Regions from separate parts of the Homo sapiens genome. Here region 2 is linked to region 1. Evidence: fine-mapped QTL for protein levels in blood plasma. A gene starts in region 1. The other region holds a variant in brackets. All regions are shown on one strand. Distances are from middle to middle. Region 1 holds the start of ITGA2 (integrin subunit alpha 2). Region 2 overlaps ITGA2-AS1 (ITGA2 antisense RNA 1).

What was found. PIP is the chance, under the fine-mapping model, that this variant and not a neighbour inherited with it causes the effect. The UK Biobank Pharma Proteomics Project read protein levels with antibody pairs (Olink). The fine-mapping took linkage between variants from a reference panel, not from the people measured, so its PIPs are less certain.
Region 2: its variant is fine-mapped to the plasma level of the ITGA2 protein (UK Biobank, PIP above 0.99).

The regions. Positions count from the first base shown.
Region 1 is chr5:52,983,033-52,994,484 of GRCh38, forward strand. ITGA2 (integrin subunit alpha 2) reads left to right here and starts at 6,320. Exons shown (of 30, transcript NM_002203.4): 1 at 6,320-6,500. The coding sequence starts at 6,437. ITGA2-AS1 (ITGA2 antisense RNA 1) reads right to left here and starts at 7,254. Exons shown (of 4, transcript NR_186583.1): 1 at 7,058-7,254; 2 at 5,172-5,244. RefSeq lists an enhancer at 4,460-5,659 and a silencer at 6,124-6,273.
Region 2 is chr5:52,959,694-52,971,145 of GRCh38, forward strand. The region is part of intron 2 of ITGA2-AS1 (ITGA2 antisense RNA 1); the gene reads right to left. Among named protein-coding and RNA genes, the nearest start is that of ITGA2, 24 kb to the right of the region's middle. The variant C/CA (reference allele first, on the strand shown) is at 5,737.

The DNA of each region.
Region 1 (11,452 bases):
TGGTAAGTGAGTGAATGTTACAAAACCGAAGAGATTGCAAGATTCTCAACTTAATCCAAATGACGGATAATGTTAGATATAATAAGAATCTGTGAGAAAAAAGAGATAGAAAGTCTGGAGAAGAATTATGCAGAGAACTCAGATTCTCAACTTAATCCAAGTGAAGGATAATGTTAGAAATAATAAGAATCTGTGAGAAAAAGGGATAGAAATTCTGGAGAAGAATTATGCAGAGAGCTTAGAGACAAATATTAGGAGACCATGAAATAGGCCACCATTTGTGAGCCAGGAATACTAGCTGTTGCTTTCTCATACTGCACAGTAGGAAATGTGAAAGCAGAAAATATTTAGATTGTGATTAAAACTGAGATTCCTGGAAAAACTGAAGTTCAAAATCTTTCTGGGCTCTCCCAGCTTCACTGATTCCATTCTTTTGATGGGCAAGCAAAGTTCACTAGTCTGCCAGTCAAATAGATGCTAATGGTAAAATTGGCTCTGTTTGACTTTTTGATGTTACACATTTGAAATGTGTTTCCATCTAAAAGGACAGGCTCCAATCTAAATGGTACCAACAAAATTACTTCAAACAAAATAGGAGTTCATGTCACTCAAGATGCACTAAAAGTTAAATTGCAAAATGGCTGAAAAGGAGAGGTCTTGGCTTCAGAAAAGAATAATAACTACCTAAAGAACAAAAGTTCGTGTTCTTGGCAGGAAATTTTAAAAAAAGAAAAATCATCTGGTGTGGTCATACAGTGTATCAAACTGAAGAAGACCCTTTCTTTACTGAGTTAAAATTAAGTCTATAGAATCCTAACTGGAGACAAGCCATGGAAAACTAAAGGCACTTGCAAGTTGAAGTTACAGGGCAATGGAAATGATGAGTAATTAAGGAGGAAGTCAGCCTACAGAGAAGACAATAGAGCAGGTACACACAGAGAAGCAAAGCCAACAAGTCATGAATTCCCTAAAAGTTGCAGAGAGTTAATTAGGTTCTTATCTTCCCAGTCTCCACTTTAAGTACCCAAGGGCTATAATTCCTGTCTTTGGGTTCTCAGAAAGTTCTTCATATCCTTGCAATTAACTATTCTTTGACTTGGGCTAGTTTAAATATGATTTATTTTTCACCCCTGAAAAATAACTGCCCTCTAACTGGAACATGCAAGTTTTCCAGACAGAGTAGAGTAGCAGATAGCCATAAGCAGCCTTAATCCTTCATATGACACATTTCTTTAAAAAAGTCTAAAGTATGGATGAACAATGTTTCCCCTTCATTGAACTTTTCCATGTCCTAAGAGATAAAATTCTTTTTTTTTCGGGTTCATCTTAACAAATCAAGACATTAGTGACTAGTTGAAGAAGTATGTTTATTCATTTGGGGAACAAACATTCATTGAGCATCAACTCTGTGTCAGGCTCTATTTTAGGAACTGTGAGTGAAAGAAGTTAATGAGACATGTTAACTTGGAAGTCCTTAAGATTTCCCAGAAGAGAGACAGATATGTCTTAAACGTAGTCTAGTACAAGGACTAGAAACCTGCTCAAATTAGCTTCAGAGAAAAAGAGAAACTATTATTAGGTTGGTCCAAAAATAATTGTGGGTTTTGCCACTGAAAGTAATAGAATGATACACAGATATTTCATGGATGTAAACCCAGGAAGAACAGTCAGATCTCACACAATGGCAAACAAAATTAAAAGACCTAGAACAATCTCTCTCCGTGTCTCTCTCTTTCTCTGTCTGTCTGTCTCATGCATGCACACCTCAGTTTCTTGGTCTCTCATATCTGTCTCTGTTTTTGATAAATGGTGCAGATTGGCTTTTTCTACACTCATTGAAGAAAATGAATGGGCTGGGCATAATTCCAACACTTTGGGAAGGTGGGGCAGGAGGATTGCTTGAGGCCAAGAGTTCCAGACCAGCCTTGGCAACACAGTGAGACCCCATCTCTATAAAAAGAAAAATTAAAAAATTAGACAGGTGTGGTGGTGCATGCCTGCCCAGCTACTCGGGAGGCTGAGGTAGCAGGATCACTTGAGCCCAGGAGTTTGAGGCTGAAACGAACTATGAATACCACTGCACTCTAGCCTAGGCAGCACAAAGCCCCATCTCAAAAAAAAAAAAAAAAAAAAAAAGGCGGGGGGGAAAAAAGAAAGAAAATGGTTGTACAAAGTGAACACAAATTTCCATTTCATGTGATCAGCAAAGATTCTAGAATCTGTATACCATGAATGTAAATCCCTAGGAGATTGATCGAGCTTGGTCAGGTGTTTGGCTTAGCGACAAGGAGGCAGGATTATGTGACTCAGTGACTTCTAGAAGGGGATCATGGAAGACTCTGAGAAAGCCCTATTGGCAGAGCTGGCAAATAGCTTTGCATGTCTGCCACAAGCATGAAAACAAGTAAGGCCAGTCAACCGTAGTTGTGCTAGAATCGAAATATGAATATGATTCATCAGTGTATTGATGGGTCCAGGAAGCTAGGAAATCTAGAATTATTTTATTTGTTTTGTTTGTGTTTAAGTTAGGAGTGTCTCTTTTATTTTGGCCATTATGCACCCCAGCCAGTGCTTAGAGACTTGTGTGTGAGTCAAGCTCAATGGATTCTAAGCTTTACTCACTCATCCCATGGATTCACTGAGTAACATTTGAGAAGCCACTGGTTACTTCACTTCAAAATTACTAGGACTTACCTAGAAGTTCATATTTACCACCCTTTTCAGGTCTAGGGAGAAGAATGTGGAATTGTTAGGAAACTCATTTCAATGTATTATAATAACTATTAATATTTATTAGAAATTTATTTACTAGGTATAGGACTAGACTCTTATAACAAAAATGTATAAGATTTCAGAGACCCAGCATTTAAATGAGAAGGTAGAATATACACATATAACTCAATAATATATTACTCTGTAATACATACAAAAGAAAGTTTATTTGGGGGAAAAAACAAAAACAAAAAAAAAAAGCTAGAGGAAACCAGAGCCAAGAAAGAAGAATGATTAGTTCTCAGTGAAGAAAATGGGAAAGGCTGGGCTAATAATATAGAATTTGACTGGAGCCTTGAAGTAGAATTTGAAACAATGGAAGAAAAAAAGAAAGCTATTCTAAGTAGAAAAATAAGGAATTGACAATGAAGAATGGGAAAGGCAGGCCAGTGAACTCGTGAATTTGGCCTAAACATAGTGTGCAAGAGGGAAAGATAGCCACGGAGCCCACAGAGGTGAGTTGGAGCCAAATCGTGACCTTAAACCCTAGGGTACTTTGAATGTCCTGAAGACATCTAATGATTTTCAGCAGATCAGTCCTGCATTTTTGGATAACTGTGACAACAGGTATAAAAGATGAACTGGAACAGGAGAGAAGGAAGCACAGAGAGATTATATGGGAGTTTGTCACCATGGTGAAAGATCAAAAGGGTTTGAACCAAAGAGAGATTAGCAGTGGAACAGAAAATAGGAGATGGCACAGAAAACCCTAGTAGGGTGTAAAGACAGAATTGGAATGGGATGTTAGCAGGGGGCTGGTGGTGCACCTGGGGAAGAAAGCAGAGGTTTCTGGTTTGGGTGATTGTCTATATGAAAACGGGATAAACAAAGGAGGGCAGGGCATGACGATACAACAGATCAGAAGGAAACACTGGGGAAACTTATCTGAGCCGTGTTCCCCAACAAAACTCTGTCTTGAGCTAAGGAAAAGAAAAAGAGGGGAAGGCCTCACTTCACCCCTGAGTGCTTTTTGGAGTAGGGTCTCTGGGTCTCTCAAGATCCTTTCAAGTGGCCAGTGAAGTCAAAACTATTTTCATAACAATACTGAGACGTTACTGCGTTTTTCACTGTGTTGACATTTGCCCTCATGGTGCAAGAACAAGGATGGGGACTGGTGGTCATTGTATTCTTCATCACTGGGCACTCACAGGAAGAGAAAGGGAGAGGGACACGGAGAGGCCAGCAGATCAATGAATTTTAATGCCACGGAATAGGAAAAACCATTGATATGGTTTCAGATTCCACATTGCAACTTTAAGAAACTACCACTTGTTGAGTTTTGGTGTAGTATCAGGGGATTATCCAGAATTATCTCCTGTTTTTCTAAGTCCATATCTGTGTAACACCAGATTAATCAATATAATTTCACCAAAACTACATGCCGTAACAGATTGGATGCAGAAGCAGATCTGAGAATCCAAATGTCTGTTTTTAAGCCAGATATTTAAAATATTAGCAAAAATGTAAAGCAATGCCACTCTTCTCCCGGATTCTTTCATTTGGAGAAATATAGTTATTTTTCATAAAATGTACATTATTTATGTTCACACATAATAGGATTTTTGTTAAAGGACTTACTGAGTAAAGGGCTCTTGAGACCAAAGAGTTTGAGAAGCCCCAGCTTAACCTTCCATATTTCCTGCTCTGAATGTGGTGTCCCTCACAACTGCAACTAGGCAGGAGAGCACCCTGGAAGGGGTTCTCAAACTACTTTGTCTCAGGAACACTTTATCCTCTTAAAATTAATGTGAGGCAGGAGTTTGTTCTTTGTTTCTAAAAGTTTTGCCTGGCTCTGGAAAATCGTAGCTCCTGACTTATTCTGCACTTCATGACAGTGTAATGTTAATTTGTCCAGTTCTGAGAACAAAAACCAAGAAGGATGCATGTTATTTCCCCCCACCCCCAGAGATAAAACACAAATTCCTGTCTCACATTAAAGGAAGTGTCCTGCCTCCCAAACACAGGTCTGTTCCAAACACTTACTCACATTTCAGTGAGTCAGAAGGAAACAGACAGATATTCATCTCCCTGAAACCTGGCTGACTTCCTTCAAAAAGTCTGTAAGGAGCGTCAAAATCGTGTCACCGGTTAGTGAGCAGCCACCTAAGAGCTCTCAGGTGATAGCCGGAGTTTTAGTAAGCAGGTGAGTACCCCAGACAATTCAGAAAAAAATGCCTTCAGGTGTTTGTCAAGGTGAGTAAGTGCAGCCAGTAAGTGACTGATAAGAAAACAGGAAAGAGCCTGGGACTATATAATTTGGGTTCAAAGGGTATTAGTCATAAGCCATCAGCAGCAACATCTGATGCATACCAATTTAATACTTTAACAATGTGACACATCAGCCCTATCTATAGTAAAGAGAAGAGCTTGATTTTTATGAATTATTAAGTCCTTCCCACCTTGAGCCACTTTGCTTCCTAGAGGCAGTATCTCAGGCATCCCATTCAGCTCATAGTAGCATTCCATGAAGATCTGGAATGATGACAATAATGATGATTATTAGACTCATAACTCCTTAAGCTTGATTTATGAAAACAGTTCGTTCCTTCACAAAAGTAGTCACTGGAAGAATTCTGGTTTCAGCAATGTGCTGGAAATTTGTGGCCAAACTTTTGGATAAAACATAAGATTCAGACAAGAAAAATTAATATCCTATTTCTTAGGTTTTTAACTAAAAATCTCGGATATAGAATGTTCTCTTTCCAGATGTGAGACTGAAATAATGGAAGAAAATGGTCACAGTCTATGTCATGGTGTAATGTAGACAGGGAGAGTCACAAGTGCATGTATGGGCTCTCAGCCTTTTCTCTGGCCTTGAAGTTAATCTCCTAAACTCAGTCATTAAATCAGCTCTTAATTATCTCGGAGGAGAGGAAGTAATGATGATTTCTCTCTCTCTGTCTCTCTGTCACACACACACACACACACACAGCTCTTGCAGCAGGTATTGCTTAAATATCACCTTGGATAATCATAACTTGTGAGCAGATCTTCTTTCCTGATGAGTTAGTTTCTAACCTGGTCATTCTGCGCTTATTTTTGTCCCTTTCTCCACCCACTTAGGAAAAACAGAGAAAGGGACGCACCGCGCAGCCCCTAGGCACTGTGGTTTAGGGCTAGTGCCCTCGGCACCCGCTGCCAGGAGCCGGGCGCTGCCAAGGGCTGCGGAGGGGCCACGTTCTCCCGGGGACTGGGGCATCTCCTGCGTGCTGGCGACAGGCTGCGGGGGCGGAGTGGTGCCAGGGCGGGCGCTCGCCCGTCGGATATGCCCACCCGTCCCGTCCAGGGCAGGAAAGCCTGCCAGGGCGCCATCCCCATCCCCACCGCCTCCAGGCTGCCGGGGCTGGGCCGCTGTACGGGAGCCAAGGTGCGGTGCCCCGCGTGTGGACGAGCCGAGGTGCAGCCCGCGGGGCCGCAGGGCCGGGGTGGGGCGGGGCGCGGCCGGAGCAGATCCGGTGTTTGCGGAATCAGGAGGGGCGGGCTGGGGCGGGCCCTCGGCGCTGCAGGAGCTGCCCAGAAACTTTTCCCTGCTCTCACCGGGCGGGGGAGAGAAGCCCTCTGGACAGCTTCTAGAGTGTGCAGGTTCTCGTATCCCTCGGCCAAGGGTATCCTCTGCAAACCTCTGCAAACCCAGCGCAACTACGGTCCCCCGGTCAGACCCAGGATGGGGCCAGAACGGACAGGGGCCGCGCCGCTGCCGCTGCTGCTGGTGTTAGCGCTCAGTCAAGGTAAGCGGGGATTTCGCTCTGCATCGGCTGCAGGAGGGACCCGCGCGGCTTCCTGGGGCTCGCTGGAGGGATTGGGCGGAACTAGGGAGCGAGCTCCGTGTGTTCCCTCGGATTCCACGTGGACTCGGGCTCCCAGCCACCAGGACCTGCTTGGAAAGAGATACTTCTTCGTTCCCTTCCTGCTATCCCAGGCCTTGCGTCCCCATTAGGCGCGTCTCGCCCTGTCTGTTAAGCACCCTCCAAAGTCATCTCAGTGAGTGCTTTGTTTTAGGTACACACACGCACACACACACACACACACACAGACAGACACGCACGCACTCAAGCATGGACAGTGTGGGGATCCGCGGGTGTCCTGGAGACCGCGAGTCCTGCAGCCCAACTTCCCCTGGCTCAGACAGGTGCCGCGCCTGCCAGAGACCAGGGAAATCCGGAATCCATTGCTGATGGCGGCCTGCAGCTCCCCAGCGCGGTGCTTGCTGGCTTTGCAGAAGCCTGCGAGCCCCAAAATGCTTATTTTTCAACCCAAGGATGTGAATAATGCCTCTATTTCTTACTTGAGGACGAAGCGCTGTGTTTCTTCCCGGGGGGACTTGGAATAAACCAAGCGCCACTTAAATACTTGGCAGAGGGGAATTCTTCCTTCCCTTCTGCCTTCCTCTTATTGTTGTAACATTGTCTATTCGACGAATGTAAACTTAGGCTAGGAAAAGTTCTTTTCACTTCTGGATCCTAGATGCCGCAATGAGAGAATAAGCCGGAGCAGCCGCTCTAACTGTAGTGCTGTGGCAGTGGGGCCCGCCCACCTCCTGAGTTCTTTTACACTAAGAGGAGGAAATAAGGCTGGGGTGGAGAGCTTTTGTGGGACCATCGCCTGAGTACTTTTTCCCTGACCATTAGGCAGAGCTAGAGTGTGGTCAAATTTAAGAATTTTAGTTTATTTGGAGGGAGAAGGAGACACGTTTGTATAATGTAGTTTGAACAGCGATCAAAACAAAACAAAAAAGTTGTCTCTGATTTTAAAGTGTGTGTGTGGTTTTTTTTTTTTTTTTTTACAAAGAAGATAAATATTTCCTAAGCTGTCCTCCTTTGAGACTGACATTCAGCCACTTGCTATTCTTTATTGTGGAGGAATGAATCCTAGTCCACGTCAACCTGGTGGCATTTTCTCCAGGTCAGAGATAAGAGAGAAATAGCACCACTGTCCCCAGCCCGAGCAGAGAATGGGCATCTTAGGTTTTCTGTCTCACCTGTATTGGGTGCTTCAGATACTTTCTCCGGGAACCAGATGAGTTGTTTTGAGGGGCCACCAACCCTAATCTACGGATTTCAGGTAAAGTTGTACTTGACATTGAAAATGAGTCTCTGGAATACAACTAGAGCTAATAGAAATATAAACCCAAGCTTTTCATCTCTCTGTAATTACCCAGTATTAAAATAAGCTGTGGAAACATAACATCATTTTCTTATCTTTGAAATGTTGAGGCTTGTTATGTAAAGAGCAGTGAGAAATTCTTTAATGGAATGTAACGCTGCAAGGCATGAAGTCAGGAACAGAGACTTAACCTGGAGTTAATAAGGACACCTCAGGGCAAGCAAGCAGAGATGATCGAAAATAACATCTGCAAAAGTTTTGTGCATTTATTCCCTCCTCCTACTCCAGCCATTTGTATACTCAAGGAACAGGTTTTCTCTTAATTTAAGATCCTCATAAGAAAGCTCTCTCATTTGTGATATCACTTGAGGTTCCTGGAGAAGCAGCATCGTTTTTTGGTACCATGAGTATCCCAGGTTAACATGAATAAGTGAAATCTCTAGCTCAGTAGTATCTAAAATTTTGTATGGCATTACCCTATCTGTATAAAATTTCTCATTCACTATCATTACACACACACACACACATAACTGTTATAAAATTATAGTATGTACAATTGCATCATATCACATACAAAAATTCAAATTTAAAAGCTATGTATGTGACAGAGCTTCATTATGATGATCTTAAATTAAGAGAAAACCTGTTCCTTGAGTATACAATATGCCGTGTTATGTATATACAATTGTATATACATATATATACCTGTTAATATGTATAAAACACATGTGTGTTTAGACATCTTGTATCATCTCTAGCATACATGCAAACCACTTTAAAAACATATCACCTTCAAATCTTATTTTAACACTTACATTCAAATTTGCTTTCCAGAAACCTTTTCACAGGTGCTTAAGAAGAAAATGTACTCATAGTTTAGTCCTATATTTATCACCTTTCAGTGCTCATTTCTAAGTGCTTAATACCATGAAAATGGTAAATGGGCAGTCTGAGGATGAAAAAGAGAGAACATAAGAGGCCTAGATAATCTATAAACTAAATATAGGCCATTAGCAGAAGGCAAATGTAATTTTGAAATGAAGGCCATCACGTATTTTCTCCAGTATGTTCACAGGTCAAGGATAGTCCTTCCACCCAGGTTCTAGACCACATCTTTTCTTACTATCCCTGAAACCCTGCCCCAGCACTCATCCCTCTTCAGTGCACGTCTTCAAATTCTCTCCCTAATGTAACTTCCCCTCAGTCTGTAAATATTCTAATTTTTCTTATTGTAAAAAAAATATTTCTTTTGATATTTAATTTCCTCCTGAAACATCCTGTACTTCTGGCTTCTGTTCTCTTCCTGTTTTTCTCCTCCTTTCCTCGCTGCTCTCCCGTCATCTCCTTCACAGGCTCTTTCCTTGTTGGTGTTTGCAGAGTTTCATCCTGAATCCTCCTCTTCATTCTGCAGATTGTCTCTGGGCCCATTCCCTGCACAGGTCCCTATCTCCAGCCAGCCTCCCCTTCTGAGTTCCAGATCAGTATTTCCATCAGCCACCAAATTTCTCCAGCTAGACAGTCTGTAAGTAAGCCAGATTCAACATTTCCAAAACTGAATTTAATACGTGTCCTCCAGAATTTTCTCCTCTATTGGCTACCATTGTTTAATGGCAGTATTATTATCACACAAACATGAAAGCCAGGAATTTGTCCCCATGTTTTCAACCTCACAGCCACTCTCCAAATTCTCTTGGCTCTCCTCCCATCCATGCAACTCCTGCCACCCAGTCAGTCCCTCATCTTATGTCTGTATGTAACTTTTAAACTGGATTTTCTTTTCTTATCTCTCCAACCCATTCTCTTCATTTTCACTAATGATATCTTTCTAAGACACTTATATGTTTCCAATTACTGCTTTGTTTCAAATGTTAGTGGCTCCCCATCTCAGGTAGGGTAAAGTGCCAATTTCTTGGCATGTCATAAAAAGGTACATTCTACCTATCCAATCTTTTCTTTACTGTATGCTTTCCTGAACACAAATACACATTCACACACACACACCACACACATGCCCACACATGTACACACTCTAAAGCCATCTATATACACCATTCTTTGTTATGACTACACCTGATCATACCATATTTAGTGTGAAAATATTTTCCAAATACTCCCTTTGCCTTCATTGCATTGTTGCTTTCACCCCTTTTCACTCATCTCTTTGCAACTGACCATTATCCAATGCTAGAAGGGTCAATCCCAAGCAAAATTATAAAGTAGAGAACTTTTACTTTTGCAACAAAAAGGAAAGCTTGAGGTAACCTACCTTTGCTGGGTCCCACCCTAAACCACCTCTCTGGTCTCATCCTCAGCCCCTTAATGGGACTTAGGCCGCCCTCTGATAAAGTAACTTTGCTCCCCTATGGCTTAGCAGTTATACCTGCCCAACCTCAGCTAAGCTTTGCTCTCTTAATACTAGGTCCTGAGCCACTGTTTGACTTAAATTTATGGACTGGGGTTTAGGATTCAGTATTTACAATGGCTCATATATTTCTGATGTATGGTCTGGTTTGGAAGTGATTGCTTAAATATCATCACTGCCTCCCCACTTTCCTAAGATTAAAATTCCAGTGTTACCTACCCCTTACCACCTTGTGGGATGATCACCAAGACAGGTAGATTTCAACATCAAGAGTTAGTGGCTGTGAGCGGCTGTGTCAGTTAAATTCCTTCCGAAGTGGATGATGACTACTCCCTGTCTTCATGTGCTGACAGCCCTGGAGATATTAAAAGGTAGAAGCTTGTTAATGTAAAGAGATGAGCTTCTCATGATGTAATTTTAGACATTCAGCAAAATAAAGACACATGTTCAGTCAATGTGTATAAAGTCAAGAATTTCAGGAAGAATGGGGAAAATATTTGGGGCCAAAAGTGTCCAGGCATCACATAAATTCTACCACTAAAGCCATAAGTCTTGACTACCAACACTGCTCAGCTTGGGATATTAGTAAAAGATTTAGCACAGCATAAAACAAGAGAAACCATGAAAGATCACCGCTCTGATTGGCAAGTGAAAGAAATGGAAGGTTGGTGGAGTTCTTTTTTTCCAGTTGTTCAGTGACCAATCATTTACCAGCAGAACATACAGAAGAGTGGCTCCCTACAGGGGAGAATCCTAGCACTGCAAATCATGAGACAATAGACTCTGTGTATGACAGTGATTCCTATGCCCCTTCAGGTGATCCATAGAGGCTTTATTGATCTGGCTACAGTGAATTTCATAAAACTAATACTTGATAATATTCTTATAAGGTATCTACTTTATGTAAGGCTGTGTGTTAGGCTCAAGGTGGAATCAGAGAAAACTTAAAACATGGCTGAGAGAGGTTGGAGTTTATTTGGAAAAAAATCCAAACATGGGGAAAGGAAATTGTCTCAGCCCTGAAGCATACTTAACCAATTTCAGCCCCTTGTCATCTTCCTTTCTAGCAGAAGTCCATTTATTGAGTTACCATCCTCTTCTGCATAGCTAAAAAATTGAGGTGATGCTGAAGGGTGATTAGGCTGGTCCCAGGCATCTGGGCTGTGTCTGATTTAGCCATGGGCATGTAATGCAAGGTTGACCAATGAGATCTGC
Region 2 (11,452 bases), 23 kb before region 1:
GTGAGTGAGAAGCTATTGTTACAGAAGACACAGACTGAATTATGAAGGGGTTATTTGTCAGGTCATCTACCTAAGTTTTGGCAGAGCACATTTTCACTGCCCTATCTTTTCTCTCTTACTGTAAAGTAAGTGCTTTTTCTCTCTCTTCACCCCTTATCCAGGAAGAGAATACAGTGGAGTTACTAAGGAAGAATCTGGATATATTCACTGGAAAATAAATGGTATACCTCAAGATTTATTATTTGTACATCCAGAGAATATCACAACATTTACTTCCTTACCTTCATTTACTTTGATTATAAAAATAATGTGATCCGCATAGGCAGATGTCAAGTGTAATTTCACCAAACAGAAGTGATCATGAATTAAGAAGACTGAAGATTATGTCTATTTATTCTTTATAACAGCAATATTATTTTAATTGCTTAAAAATATGTGAATATTAATTGTTAAGAAAACATTTATGGTAAAAGGGGGATGTATACACATGTAGATAATTTGAAAACCACAAGAAATAATTTTAAAATAGCCATCATACCAGTACCAGAAATTATATGCTAAAAATCATAAAGAATATAGTACCCTGTACTTTTAAAAACTATAATATTATATTTCTTAATTTTTCTCTAGTAAAAAAAGGATGATGGTCATCAAATACTTTCCCTTGCTTTGAAGTTGACAATAAGGAAGAAAATTACCCACTCGCCTCCTTCTCCTTCTGAGCCAATAACTGCTATACACATACACATACACATATGGCACACTAGAATTCTCCATAGTCTGCATGGAGAATAATTACTTCTTTACCTACTTCTTCAAGCAAAAGTGGGATGGGGCAAAGAGCAAAGAGTGATGGGGGAAAGATGGGTAAGATAATGTCACTAAGAATGATAGCATATTTGGCCTTGTTTATTATGCAAACCAACTATATTATTTTATTAATAATCCCAGAGAAAGAAAGAATTTTTGCCAGAAACAAAAGACCTGGCATCATTACAAGCATTAGCAAAAAAAAGACAGTAAATAAGGAACAGAGGAACACATGAGACAGGAGACATATAGAAAACAAACAGCAATATGGCAAATATAACTCTGGCCATATCAATAATTACATTAAAGGTAAATGATCTAAACACCCAAATCAAAAAGCAGAGATTTTCAGACTGATAAAAGAATAAAGTTGATCTACATGCCCTCTAAAAGAGAAAGACTTTAGCTTGAAAGGTGCAAGTGGGTTGAAAGAAAAATGATGGAATAAAAATACACTACGCAAATAGTAACCATAAGAGAGCTGGAGTGGCTATATTATATCAGACAAAATAAACTTTAAGATGTGTCTAGTTCCAGGCATAGGAAGATTCTAATCTTGTGAAGGAGACAGGGACCCATGGAAATCTGCTAAGCATGTAGATATTCTAGATTTTTGCTTGGATTGACTTTGATGTCCTGTAGATTTTCAAGGACCATTGACACCTGAAATAAAACTCGGATGAAGGAAGAATCCATGGAGTCACCCCACTTTGAAATTTGTCTTAAGTTCATGTGTAGGGGGATCCCTAACCTACACAGATTCTGGTTGCCATGGTCTAATTGCTACCCCAGTGGCAGGAATAATAGAACAGGCATCATAGTCCATAGGCACCTAGGCTTCCAAGCAGTTCACAGATTTTGGTCATGTGCCAGGTCTCTAGTTAGTACTTCACTGGCAAGTGCTGGCTTGAATTAATAAAAGCAGCATTGAAATATCTGTGGGTTTTGTCTTTAGCTTCCACTTCACTCAGCTATTTTTTTGTTTTTGTAGTATCTTTCAACTGATTGTGTGGCATGAATTCATTTAGATACCACAACTCAGAATGGCATTCCAAAGGCAAGAGTGGAAATGTCTCAACTTGGTAAATAAAAATAGCAACCAGATTCAGCCATCAGACGGTAATTAGTGGAGCTGGAAGCTAGCCATTCCAAGGACTAACTATCCTTGATAAAACGCCCAAGGCTCTTTAGCTTTGCATGCTCAATCTCTCCTTTTCTGTTTTCTTCCTTCCTTTACTCAGATTTTTCTATTCTATTTCACTCAAGTACCATCTGTTATTCCTTTTCACACACTTTTCAGACCCTTCTTTTATTCCTGCCCATTCTGCATACCTCATCGTTAAAAGGCGGGTAATTCTACAAAGATTCCAATTAGTGTATTGTTTGACGGCTGATCAGGTTTTCCCCCTTTTAAGATGAACCACTGAATAAATGGTGTAAAGAATGTAGTCTTGTGTTGCCAACATCTTGTCAGAATTTTTTTTGAAGTTTGAGTTCACTATTGTCCACTTGAGTTGCCATTAAGCATAATGTATATCTCTGTGTGAACATGTCTGAGCCCATATGTGAGCAAACACGTGAATGAAGATTGTATTTTTAGATGGAAAGTCATTTGAATTCTGAAAGTGGCAGGACATGTAAGGCAGTAATACAGGGAAAGTAGGTAGTTTTGAATGAAACTGATGGTGACTGGTGAAGTCTCCCAATTTTCTATGGGGAGGGGAAGAAAGGTAAGAGACTAACATTTGTTGTCTGCCTCCCACATGCCAGGCATTGAGCTAGGCAATTTTCCAACATCAAGCCTTTTAATCCTATCAGCAACACTAAATGGTATTATTATTATTATTCCTATTATACAGATGATGTAATTGAGACCCAAAGGACCTAAGGAGCTACTTCAAGGCTATAAAGCTAGTAAGTAGTGATGTAGAAATAAAAACCAAGATCTATCTGAGTCCGAAGCTGCTTCCCCAAGGACAGGAACTTGAGAGGAAGTCACTGGAAGAGAAATGAAAACACAGAGGTAGAGGAGAACACACATCTATTTTGGTAGTACTTGGCACATAGTAACTTTCAGTAAATATTTGTTTATTGCTGAATGGATGCAAAAATTGATCAACTATATTAGTCAGAGATCTCCAGAGACATAGAGCTAATAGGAGATATATACATATATATGTGTATATAGGAGAGATATCTATCTTACACACACACACACACACACACACACACACACACACACACACACACACATATATATATATATATATATATATGGAGAGAGAGAGATTATAAGGAACTGCTTCACATGGCTATGGAGGCTGAGAAGTCCCATGGTCTACGGTCTGTAAACTAGAGACCCGGGAAAGCTGATGGTATAGTTCCAGTCCAAGTCTGAAGGTCCAAGACTAGGAGAACTGATGATGTAAGTGGTGGAAGAAAGCTGGTGGTGTAGTTCTAGTCCAAGTCCAAAGGCCTGAAAGTCAGAAGTGCCAGTGGTATAAGTCCCAGTCCAAGTGTAGGAGAAGACTGATATCCCAATTCAAACTGTCAGGCAGAGAGAGCAAATTCTCTCTTACCCTGCCTTTTGTTCCATTCAGGCCTCCAACAGATTGGATGAAGGCTAAAAACACTGGCCATCTGCTTTCCTCAGTCTACCAATTCAAATGCTAATCTCACTCAGAAACACCCTCACAAATATAACCAGAATAATGTTTAACCAAATATCTGGGCACCCTATGTCCCAGTCACATTGACACATAAAATTAATCATCACAAGTCCACCTCTGTCAACTTGTCACCCATACACATCTCCTTAAGCCATACTTAACCTCAAAATAAAGGCAATAACAAGGTCATAATTTCACCAAACATGATACAATTATCCTGCATACCACTAAAAATGCACTAACCCCTTCCCCAGAAAAGGAGGCAAAGTCTTTGAAATTCACTCTTCTCCTTGATGTCTAGTAACTGAAATACTATGATTGAAAATTAACAATACTTAACTATGATATAAAGTCAATACATCTGCAGTTACATGACAAAAGAATCAGAGAGAGTGAAAATCAAAGATATTTTCTTAATACGTACAAATATAATTATATTTAAAACATATTCACATTCTAAACAAAATAAGGAGGACTATTCATAACAATTACAGTCCTCTTTTTTTTGTAACTGGTCACTTGTAGCTGATACTTACAGCTACCTTCTTCCACTAGCCACTCTATGTTCCTTTTCCCTTCAGCAAGCTCCTTATTTGGTCATGGTTCTTCACCTGGTAGAATGACCCAAATCTTCATTCCTGAAGAGTCTGAGCCATTAGTAGTCCTTCCTGGATTGGGCTGTTGTAGCTTTCCATTGATTATAATCACAAGGTAAGGTAATACTCAGTGACACACTAAGGGATCTCTTGGAATTCAAGCATGTTCTTTCTTACCTCAATTGTGGAGTAGCAGTTGAATTTCTCTTCTGTAGCGAGGATCAGCCACCTCACCCAGTATAATATTATAACTCACTTCTTTGCCTATTGATTCAGAGTCATGAGAAGCTCAAAGGGGCCAGGTGGCAATCTTAATTTCCAGTTCAATGGAATCATTTTTGTGTCTCCTGGTGGGAGCATTCTTCCCTTAGGAACTGAGATCCCTAGGCCACCAGAGCATAAGGTTATGAGAACAGAAAGCAAAAATTTTGTTAGTGGGTCCCTGCGGGTAATAGTGAGTGGAGTCACTCCTATTTCCACCTTTGATTCCTGGACTCATGAATCCTAGTTATTGGAGAAACAGCACCATATACTGGACAGTGATTCAGAGTATATTCAGCCTTGTAGAGAATCTTGTCCATGCCCTCTGATGTACTGCCACCTAGCTGGTGCTATAGCTGAGTCTTCAGAAGGACATTCCACTGTTTCATCAGACCAGCTGCTTCAGTATGGTGGAGAACATGGTAAGACTAGTGAAGTCTATGAGCCTGGGCCCACTGCTGCACTTACTTTGCAGCAAAGTGAGTTTGTCAGTCAGAAGCAATGCCATGGGGAATACCATGATGGTGAATAACGTTTTATAGTTATATTTTTCCAGCTCACTTACATCTCTTTGGCAAGGAAATCATGAACATACAAAATGATCACTAATCATAGACTTGAACCCTTGGAGGCAGTTGAAAAATCACCCAGTACTGGAAACTTCTTTACAACATCCCAAACAGTGAAACCTGGTCTATGCTTGGGCACTTTCAACCGTAAGGTCCTCAGTATCCCAGCTGTAGCTTCTGTTCTGCTTTTGTGAAGCACTAGTTATTTGAAAGTATATCTTTCATTTCAAATTCTAATATTTGCTATGCATCAACAAAAGTCTCTGTATTTATGTAAGTGTTCTTTAACCTATTAAGTATAACTTAGGGCAATGAGTTCCATAAACTTACTACCTATCGTGCAAAGTAAGATTTTATTTAATTTTTCCATTTCCTTATTAATTTAAGATCTAAAATCGCCTCTCCAGTTAATGTCTCTCAATGTATTTACCCTCTACTAACTGTCAGAACTCTCAAACCAGTGTTTTCATTCATCCAAAACATAAAGAAGCAGTATTAGTAGACTGTAATATTAGGATAAAATATAGCAATATTAGAATTATTACTATATAGCCGGGCGCGGTGGCTCACACCTATAATCCCAGCACTTTGAGAGGGTGAGGCAGATGGATCACTTGAGGTCAGGAGTTTCAGACCAGCCTGGCCAACATGGTGAAACCCCATCTCTAGTAAAAATACAAAAATTAGCCGGGCATGGTGGCACATGCCTGTAACTCCAGCTATTCGGTAGGCTGAGGCAGGAGAATCACTTCAGCCCAGAAGGCGAAGGTTGCAGTGAGTCAAGATCACGCCACTGCACTCTAGCCTGGGTGACAGAGCGAGACTTCATCT[C/CA]AAAAAAAAAAATGATTACTATATAATAAACTATTAAACTATTATAAAAATCAAAACAACATATAATAGTGCAAACATAAGTAAGGCATAGTTATGATGCATTTTGCATCTAATGATCTTTTCTCACAGTGACAATACAAGCGGATCCTTGACAGAATTATTAAAGTTATAAGGTGACAGAAATGCATTTTACAAATAACATAGTAGCTTGTAATGGTGCTGATCCAAAAAATACTACCAATTTAAGGTCTTAGATCTTTGTATTATTATGAGAATAGGTAAAATGTTTTACCTCACAACTATTTAACATTAGCCGGCCTGCTTACATCTTTAATACAAATTGAAAACTGGTGAAATTTTTAAATTATTATTATACTTTAAGTATACATGTGCAGAACGTGCAGGTCTGTTACACAGGTATACATAGGTATACACATGCCATGGTGGTTTGCTGCACCCATCAACCCATCATCTACATTACATATTTCTCCTAATGCTATTCCTCCCCTAGCCCCCCACCTCCTGACAGACCCCGGTGTGTGATGTTCCCCTCTCTGTGTCCATGTGTTCTTATTGTTCACCTCCCATCTATGAGTGACAACATGCAATGTTTGGTTTTCTGTTCAAGTGTTAGCTTTCTGAGAATGATGGTTTCCAGCTTCATCCATGTCCCTACAAAGGACATGAACTCATCCTTTTTTATAGCTGCATAGTATTCCATGGGGGCATATGTGCCACATTTTCTTTATCCAGTCTATCATTGATGGGCATTTGGGTTTGTTCCAAGCCTTTGCTATTGTGAAGACTCCTGCAATAAACATTCGTGTGCATGTGTCTTTATAGTAGAATGATTTATAATCCTTTGGGTATATACCCAGTAATGGGATTTCTGGGTCACATGGTATTTCTGGTTCTAGATCTTGAGGAATTGCCACACTGTCTTCCACAATGGTTGAAGTAATTTACACTCCCAGCAACAGTGTAAAAGCGCTCCTATTTCTCCAAAATCTGTTGTTTTCTAACTTCTTAATCATGGCCATTCTAACTGGTGTGAGATGGTATCTAATTGTGGTTTTGATTTGCATTTCTCTAATGACCAATGATAATAAGCTTTTTTTCATATATTTCTTGACCATATAAATGTCTTCTTTTGAGAAGTGTCTGTTCATATCCTTCACCCACTTTTTGATGGGATTGTTTGTTTTTTTCTTGTAAATTTGTTTAAGTTCCTTGTAGATTCTTGATATTAGCCCTTTGTCAGATGGATAGATTGCAAAAATTTTCTTCCATTCTGTAGGTTGCCTGTTCACTCTGATGGTAGTTTCTTTTGCTGTGCAGAAGCTGTTCAGTTTAATTAGATCCCACTTGTTAATTTTGGCTTTTGTTCATTGCTTTTGGTGTTTAGTCATGAAGTCTTTGCCCATGCCTATGTCCTGAATGGTAATGCCTAGGTTTTCTTCTAGGGTTTTTATGGTTTTAGGTCTTATGTTTAAGTCTTTAATCCATCCTGAATTAATTTTTGTATAAGGTGTAAAGAGGGGTCCAGTTTCAGTTTTCTGCATATGGCTAGCCAGTTTTCCCAACAACGTTTATTAAATAGGGAATCCTTTCTCCATTGCTTGTTTTTGTCAGGATTGTCAAAGATCAGATGGTTGTAGATATGTGGTGTTATTTCTGAGGCCTCTGTCTGTTCCATTGGTTTATATATCTGTTTTGGTACCAGTACCATGCTGTTTTGGTTACTGTAGCCTCATAGTATAGTTTGAAATCAAGTAGCGTGATGGCTCCAGCTTTGTTCTTTTTGGTTAGAATTGTCTTGGCTCTTTTTTGATTCCATATGAAATTTGAAGTAGTTTTTTCTAATTCTGTGAAGAAAGTCAATGGTAGCTGGAGGGGGTTGCATTGAATCTACAATTAGTTTGGGCAGTAAAGCCATTTTCATGATATTGATCCTTCCTATCCATGAGCATGGAATGTTTTTCCATTTGTTTTTGTCCTCTCCTATTTCCTTGAGCAGTGATTTGTAGTTCTCCTTGAAGAGGTCCTTCACATCCCTTGTAAGTTGGATTTCTAGGTATTTTATTCTCTTTGTAGCAATTGTGAATGGGAGTTCACTCATGATTTGGCTTTCCATTTGTCTATTATTGGTGTATAGGAATGCTTGTGATTTTTGCACATTGATTTTTGTATCCTGAGACTTTGCTGAAGGTGCTTATCAGCTTAAGGAGATTTGGGGCTGAGACGACGGGGTTTTCTAAATATACAATCATGTCATCTGCAAACAGAGACTGTTTGACTTCCTCTTTTCCTAATTGAACACCCTTTATTTCTTTCTCTTGCCTGATTGCCCTGGCTGGAACTTCCAATACTATGCTAAATAGGAGTGGTGAGAGAGGGCATCCTTGTCTTGTGCCTCTTTTCAATGGGAATGCTTCCATCTTTTGCCCATTCAGGATGATATTGGCTGTGGGTTTGACATAAATAGCTGTTATTATTTTTAGGTATGTTCCATCAATACCTAGTTTATTGAGAGTTTTTAGCATGAAGGGCTGTTGAATTTTATGAAAGACCTTTTCTGCATCTATTGAGATAATCATATGTTTTTTGTCATTGGTTCTGTTTGCGTCATGGATTACATTTATTGATTTGTGTACGTTGAACAAGCTTTGCATCCCAAGAGTGAAGCCAACTTGATTGTGGTGGACAAGCTTTTTGATGCGCTGCTGGATTCAGTTTGCCAGTATTTTATTGAGGATTTTTGCATCAATGTTCATCAGGGATACTGACCTAAAATTTTCTTTTTTTGTTGTGTCTCTGCCAGGTTTTGGTATCAGGATGATGCTGGCCTCATAAAATGAGTTAGGGAGGAGTCCCTCTTTTTCTATTGTTTGAAATAGTTTCAGAAGGAATGGTACCAGCTCCTCTTTGTACCTCTGGTAGAATTTGGCTGTGAATCCATCTGGTCTGGGCTTTTTTTGATTAGTACGCTATTAATTACTGCCTCAATTTCAGAACTTGTTATTGGTCTATTCAGGGATACAACTTCCTGGTTTAGTATTGGGAGGGTGTATGTGTCTAGGAATTTATCCATTTCTTCTAGATTTTCTAGTTTATTTGCATAGAGGTGTTTATATTATTCTCTAATGGTAGTTTGTATTTCTGTGGGATCAGTGGTGATATCCCCTTTATCATTTTTTATTGTGTCTATTTGATTCTTCTCTCTTTTCCTTTTTGTTAGTCTGGCTAGTGGTCTGTGTATCTTATTAACCTTTTCAAAGAAACAGCTCTTGGATTAGTTGATATTTTTAAGGGTTTTTCGTGTCTTTATCTCCTTTAGTCCTGCTCTGATCTTAGTTATTTCTTGTCTTCTGCTAACTTTTGAATTTGTTTGCTCTCGCTTTTCTAGTTCTTTTCATTGTGATGTTGAGGTGCCAATTTTAGATCTTTCCAGGTTTCTGATGTGGGCATTTAGTGCTATCAATTTCACTCTACATACTGCTTTAGCTGTGTCCCAGAGATTCTGGTACATTGTGTCTTTCTTCTCATTGGTTTCAAAGAATTTATTTCTGCCTTAATTTTGTTATTTACCCAGTAGTCATTCAGGAACAGGTTGTTCAGTTGCCATGTAGTTGTGTGGTTTTGAGTGAGTTTCTTAATCCTGAGTTCTAGTTTGATTGCACTGAGGTCTGAGAGACTATTCGTTATGATTTCTGTTCTTTTACATTTGCTGAGCAGTTTCCAATTATGTGGTCAGTTTTAGAATGAGTGTGATGTGGTGCTGAGAAAAATGTATATTCTGTTGATTTGGGGTGGAGAGTTCTGTAGATGTCTAATAGGACCGCTCGGTCCAAAGCTGAGTTCAAGTCCTGAACATCCTTGTTAATTTTCTGTCTCGTCAACGTGTCTAATAGTGACAATGAGGTGTTAATGTCTCCCACTATTATTGTGTTGGAGTCTAAGTCTCTTTGTAGGTCTCTAAGAACTTGCTTTATGGATCTAGATGCTCCGGTATTGCGTGCATATATATTTAGGATAGTTAGCTCTTCTTGTTGCATTGATCCCTTTACCATTATGTAATGCCTTTCTTTGTCTTTTTTGAACTTTGTTGGTTTAAAGTCTGTTTTACCAGAGACTAGGATTGCAACCCCTGCTTTTTTGCTTTCCATTTGCTTGGTAAATATTCCTCCATCCCTTTATTTTGAGCCTATGTGTGTCTTTGCATGTGAGATGGGTCTCCTGAATACAGCACATTGATGGATCTTGAACCTTTATCCAATTTGCCAGTCTGTGTCTGTTAATTGGAGCATTTAGCCCATTTACATTTAAGGTTAATATTGTTATGTTTGAATTTGATCCTCTCATTACGATGCTAGCTGGTTATTTTGCTGGTTAGTTGATGCAGTTTCTTCATAGTGTTGATGGCATTTAATATGTTTTTGCAATGGTTGGTAATGGTTTTTCTTTTACCATATTTAGTGTTTCCTTCAGGAGCTCTTGTAAGGCAGGCCTGGTAGTGACAAAATCTCTCAGCATTTACTTATCTATAAAGGATTTTATTTCTCCTTCACTTATGAAGCTTAGTTTGGCGGATATGAAATTCTGGGTTGAAAATTCTTTTCTTTAAGAATGTTGAATATTGGCCTCCACTCTCTTCTGGCTTGTAGGGTTCCTGTAGAGAGATCTGCTGCTAGTCTGATGAGCTTCCCTTTGTGGGTTACCCAACCTTTCTCTCTGGCTGCCCATAACATTTTTTTCCTTCATTTCAACCTTGGTGAATTTGATGATTATGTGTCTTGGGGTTGCTCTTCTCAAGGCATATCTTTGTGGTGTTCTCTGTATTTCCTGAATTTGAACGTTGGCCTGTCTTTCCAGTTTAGGGAAGTTCTCCTGGATAATAGCTTGAAGAATGTTTTCCAACTTGGTTCCATTCTCCTCGTCACATTCAAGTACACCAATCAAACATAGGTTTGGTCTCTTCACATAGTCCCATATTTCTTGGAGGCTTTGTTCATTCATTTTCATTCTTTTTTCTCTAATCTTCTCTTCACTCTTTATTTCATTAAATTAATCTTCAATCTCTGATATCCTTTCTTCCACTTGATCAATTCAGCTATTGATACTGGTGCATGCATCACGAAGTTCTTGTGCTGTGTTTTTCAACTCTATCTAGTCATTTATGTTCTTCTCTAAACTGGTTATTCTAGTTAGCAATTCCTCTAACCATTTTTCAAGGTTTTTTTTAAATTTTTTTATTATACTTTAAGTTCTAGGGTACATGTGCACAACATGCAGGCTTGTTACATATGTATACATGTGCCATGTTGGTGTGCTGCACCCATTAACTCGTCATTTATATTAGGTATATCTCCTAATGCTATCCCTCCCTCCGTCCCCCTACCCCACAACAGGCCCTGGTGTGTGATGTTCCCCACCCTGTGTCCAAGTGTTCTCATTGTTCAATTCCCACCTGTGAGTGAGAACATGCAGTGTTTGATTTTCTGTCCTTGTGATAGTTTGCTGAGAATGATGGTTTCCAGCTTCATCCATGTCCCTACAAGGGACATGAACTCATCCTTTTTTATGGCTGCATAGTATTCCATGGTGTATATGTGCCACATTTTCTTAATCCAGTCTATCACTGATGGACATTTGGGTTGGTTCCAAGCCTTTGCTATTGTGAATAGTGCCGCAATAAACATACGTGTGCATGTGTCTT